2 separate regions of the Homo sapiens genome follow, and region 2 is linked to region 1. Evidence: fine-mapped expression QTL. Tissue or cell type: whole blood. Region 1 holds a variant in brackets; the other region holds the start of a gene. All regions are shown on one strand. Distances are from middle to middle.

Region 1 (2,629 bases):
CATGACAAATGGAAGGGCAAGATTGCTAAGCCCTGAGCAGCTGAGCAGTGCTGTGATGCCCAGAGACAAACTCTGACCCTGTGTTTCTGCACTTGCCCTTGGGGATGCAGGGCTAGGGCATGTCCTAGGCTGGCCAGGTTCTGTAAGCTTTTGGTTTGGACACGTTTGAAATTAGGTTAAAGTCAGCATCTGGCTATAGTGGGCTCCAGAGAGAAAAGAACACAGAGGAGCGTGTGTGGGAGGTGTAGGGAGGAGGAGGAGGCACATCCCAGCGGTGGGTCCTGGCAGGAGACCTCAGGCTGGCCCTCTGGAGAAAAGCCCCAAGTCTATAATAACAACCAGCTGTCAGAGTCACCTCCTTTGATTGATTGATTGAAATGGGGTCTCACTATGTTGGCCAAGCTGGTCTCAAATTGCCTCAAGTGATCCTCCCACCTCAGCCTTCCAAAGTGCTTGGGGTTGTGGCCGGGTACGTAGCTCATGCCTATAATCCCAGAACTTTGGGAGGCTGAGGCAGGAGGATCACTTGAGGGCAGGAGGATCACTTGAGGTCAGGAGCTTGAGACCAGCCTGGACAACATGGTGAAGTCTCTACTAAAAATAAAAAAATTAGCTGGGCATGGTGGCACACACCTATAATCCCAGCTACTTGGGAGGCTGAGGCAGGAGAATCACTTGAACCCGGGAGGCAGAGGTTACAGTGAGCTGAGATCATGCCACTCCACCCCAGCCTGGGTGACAGAGTGAGACTCCTTCTCAAAAAAAAAAAAAAAAAAAAAAAAAAAGTGCTGGAGTTACAGGCATAAGCCACCATGCCTGGCCTTCCACCTCCTTCTTATATAGGACTGCTTAGAAAGAAAGAAAAAAACTCAAACATTTACAGATATGCAGATATGCCCAATCTTTTAGGCTCTAAGTGAGGAGTAGGCGGTGGGATGTTAGGGGTGGACTGGTAGAACAAAATAGGCCTTGTTCCTGCAGGTGCCTTGGAAAAATCGAAGATGAAAGACCTTACATTATTTCCTGGGGGTGTGAGCCAGCCTTGTTCTTGTTTACCATTGTCAACTCTGTGCACAAAGCTATTTATGAGTCGGTTGTAACGGATACAGGAAATATGAGCTTCTGAGCCTCTCCCTGTTGCTTTGTTTCCTGCTGCCTAGGTGGGAAGTCACGACCTGACCCTTGTTAACCTTCACCTGGCAGCCCTGACCCTCCTGGG[G/A]AGCGAGAATCCCAGCAAGAATCACAGTGATGGCCACCGGTTGGCGAGCTTTGCACAGACCCTACAGGAAACCCTGAAAGGTAGGACATTGTCTTTTGCTGTGACTCGGCCACTGTTTTGCAGAGCAGCAGGGCTGCCTCTTCTGAGCCATCTCTGACCACTTGGGCTGGCTGTTTGTCAGCAATGTGAGTCGCGGGTACAGGGGACAGTCAAACCTCTGGCATCTCATGGAGCCCAGCTGACCCTGCACGGCCACATCTGTGCCTCTGTGGACCTAGCATATGCGTTCCAAGCTGTCAGCTCTGTGGCTTTTTAGCCTCATTTAGATAGAAAGGATTAGGGGGGAAGAATATAAGTGATGATGCCCTTCCCCGAAGACAGCTCATCCTGGGACCAGCTGCCTCGGGCATCACTCCGGTGGTGCCGCCTGCAGATTTGCATGTGCTCTTCCTGTGAAAGAGAGACGGGGGTGACAAGGGGAAGTGGTAAATTGCTGATGATTGGTGAATTGAGTTTTTCTCTCTGGCGGGATACAGAGCATGTTGAAGAAGCCCTGAACCTGTCAGAAATGCTGGATTTTAATCTTGTAGGACCTCAGGCAAGCCACCAAACCACTTCAGGCCCCCATCTGATGGGGGACAGTACTCATCTCATAGCAGTACCCAGAGGGCTAAGTAACAGTGTCTGCAGCAATACCAAGCACATAGTAGGGACTTCATGTACACGAGTTGACTCTAAAACATGAGAAGAATTAAGAGAACACTGAAAAGAGCAGAATTCTAGCTAGGCACGGTAGCTCATGCCTGTAATCTCAGCACTTTGGGAGGCCAAGGCGGGAGGATCACTTGAGCCCAGGAGTTCAAGAGCAGCTTGGGCAACATAGTGAGACCCTGTCTCTACAAAGAACGAAAAAAATTAGCCGGGCATGGTGGTACACACCAGTAGTCCCAGATATTCAGGAGGTTGAGGAGGGAGAATCACTTGAGCCCAGGAAGTCGAGGCTGCAGTGAGCTTTGATCGCACCACTGTACTCCAGTCTGGGCAACACAGCAAGACCCCATCTCTTAAAAAAAAAAAAAAAAGGAGCTGAACTCCAGGACAAAGGGGGGCTATGCCCCAACTAATATAGATGGTTTTCTGCACTTGGTTTACCAAAAGAAAAGGTTGACAAGGCTGTGAAGACTGTGATCTTATCCATCTGGCTTGATTTTTCAGAACACTGACCTTGTCTAGGTGAGTTTGTAGTTGGAGGCTTGGAATTCTCTTCTATCTTTTGAGTCTGGACCAATATTCTCTAGCTTTCTAAGACTTCCTCGTTAAACTGGCCCCTCAAATTGGGAGATTCATGAAGATTTTACTACAAAAATATTTCAGTCAAACTGTAGGCTCACATTTCAAAAGATGTATGTA
Region 2 (2,628 bases), 130 kb before region 1:
GCAGTCCTGCCATGTCCTAATGACCCCATCATCACTTGGGTCGGATGCAACCAGACTTGAGGTAAGATTCCTTACCTTAACTTTTCAACAAGGAACCAAAAATTTCCCCCCGACCTTTTTTTTTTTTTTTTTGGTCTAAGCTAGTTTGACTTGGTTTTCTGACCAATATACATAGCAGGGGAATGTGCCTCAGAAAGGCAGTAGCATTTTCCAAACTTGGGCTGCCGCTAATTTTACAACCAAAGTACCTTCCGCCTGTGAGAGGTACTATTTTTGCTGACCCAGTCCTTGGAATTGAAACCAGATGCACTGGTCACATTGGTTGGGGATGAAACTTCAGAGAACACTAAACGTCCAGGGTCAAAGTATTCAACGATATCACCGCATGATTTGCTTAATCGAATACTCTAGCTCTAGGTATCCACTATAATGCAGAGGGCTCTTTAATCTTTAACCAAATTGTCATTTAGCAGTGTGATGCAAAAACTCTTCTGGGTTTTGGGAAGCAGCCCCCATTTCCCTCCTTCGTAATGATTAGACTTAATATTACAAAAACTTATCCTTGTTTACTCACAGCGCTAAATGTGCAAAGGAGCAAACCTGTATTTGACCTATGCGAACACACAGGAGGGTGGTGCGTGCCCTCTGCTAGGAGCACAATGCGTCGCTGGCGTTATTAGAGGACATCTCTCTGAGCGGAGCAAAGGTAATACACTGGTGGAAGAAAAGAAAAGGCCGAAAGTGGGGACAGAAATTAAGACGATCCCATTCAGTCTCCTCTGGAACGTTCTGCAAAATTCCGTGAGACCCTGGACCTACAGCGATGCACTCTCAGGGACTGCCCCGGCCTTCATCCCCACACCTCAAAGACAGACGAAAAGCAGCTGAGCAGATCTCGCCTCGGGCAATCCTAAACAGCCTCTACCAGGCACAACCAGTCCTAGGCCCCGGGCGGCAACCATGGTCCGGGGGCAGCTGACTTAGGACAGCCTCCCTGTGACCCGCCCTCGCCGGCACGGCGCCGGCTCCGCCCCTTAAGCCCCCTAAGTCCCGCCTCTGCGCTCCCGGGGCCTACCCCCGCGCTCATGGCCCCGCCCCCGCTTTTCCTACCCCATCGCGCCCTGGCCCCGCTCCCACACTCTATGACCCCGCCTCTCGCACTCCAGGCCCGCCCCACGCGCTCCAGGGTTCTGCTCTCCACCCATTTGTGCCAGGCCACGCCCCCACACCCATGGCTCCTCCTCTCGCACGCCAGGGCCTCCCCTCGCGCTCTCTGGTTCGTTCTCCACCCTCTTGAGCCTTGATGCCGCCCCCTCTTCCATGGCCCCGCCTCTCCCACTCCAGGCCCGCCCTTGCGCTCTCGGGTTCCTCTCTCCACCCACTGGTGCCAGGCCTCGCCCCGCGCCAGGGCCCCTCCCCCACGTGCCCTCGGGAGTCCCGGGGAGGAGTTGCCGCGCGGAGGAGGCGTGGCCGCGGTGCCTGCGGAGGCGCGAGCGGCGCGGCGCGGCGCGGCCGGGACTTTGGCTTTGACACCGACTGCGAGCGGGAGCCGTGCGGCTGGTGCTGGGTCTGGACTGGCTCTGGCGGATCCCCGCCCGAGTTGGGCGCAGGACTTTTTGCCGGGGTAAACGCAACTGCGGCGGCGCCGCCGCAAGCCCCGGTGCAGCCTCGGCGGCGGGTTTCGCCGCCGCTGCCGCCGCCTCCGAGCAGCCCTGCGGCTTCTATTCACTCTGGGAGAGCGATGCTAAGTTTCTCCCATAGAAAGAGCCGGGACACGCAGACCGAAGCGGCGTAGTCGGCTTCCAGGGCCTGACCAGTGACCCACACCCGCGCGGACGCCTAGGCTGGAGGCAGGGGGCCCGTGCTGTCCCGGGCTGGGCTCAGGCTTCCGAGCCGCAGGTGGAAGAGGAACCGGCGCCCCGCAGAGCGGCCGAGAGGTGGGGCGCGGGGACCCGCGGCAGGTCGGGTGGGGGGTCGATAAGCCCCTTCTCAGTGCCCGCTCCGGGGAGCACGGACTTCCCAGGTTGCAGGTAGCGCTGTGTCAGATGCGGAGCGTGGGGGAGGTGGAGTGGCCACCCCGTCTGCGCGAGCCCAAGTGTGGGTGACCCAAGTGTCAGAGTTGAGAGAGGCCTGGAGGAGAGGCATGAGGCTGATGGGGATAGGTCTCTTCCCAAGAGAAGCGGCTCGTAGCCTTTTTGGACTCCAGTGTGATAAAACCCGGACGTCCCTAGAGGAGAATCCACATGGGCCTAGCCTCATTGTGCCTGCGTTTTTAGGGGTTCACGGGCAGCCACCAGTCCCCGACTCCTGGTTACTAACTCTAGCACTAGGTAGGGGGTGCTAATGCAAATTTCTTAATTCAATGGGTTTCTATGTTTATTGATTTATTTTCTAGGCGGCCAAGTGAAAGGTAATTTTGGACACGCCAGGCATGGAAGATTCGGTGTTTGTCTATAGTAACCTCTTCAGTCCCTGAATCCTGCACCTTCCGTTTTTCTGTGCTTGTACGGCCTACTGGGCTTCCTCCCTAGCCAGAGAGCTCTTCTGCAGTGGTGCGGCCTTCCCGGGAGCCTGATCCTGGCGGACCATGGGGAGCACCCTGGGCTGCCACCGCTCCATCCCCAGGGA

The links. PIP is the estimated chance that this variant, and not a neighbour inherited with it, causes the effect.
Region 2: it holds the start of EEPD1, and the variant in region 1 is fine-mapped to the expression of EEPD1 in whole blood (INTERVAL, PIP above 0.99).

Annotation. Positions count from the first base shown.
Region 1 is chr7:36,286,479-36,289,107 of GRCh38, forward strand. It overlaps EEPD1 (endonuclease/exonuclease/phosphatase family domain containing 1), which reads left to right. Exons shown (of 8, transcript NM_030636.3): 6 at 1,161-1,299. Among named protein-coding and RNA genes, the nearest start is that of MATCAP2, 79 kb to the right of the region's middle. The variant G/A (reference allele first, on the strand shown) is at 1,220.
Region 2 is chr7:36,151,738-36,154,365 of GRCh38, forward strand. It overlaps EEPD1 (endonuclease/exonuclease/phosphatase family domain containing 1), which reads left to right and starts at 1,517. Exons shown (of 8, transcript NM_030636.3): 1 at 1,517-1,937; 2 at 2,396-2,628. The coding sequence starts at 2,588. RefSeq lists a silencer at 929-1,648.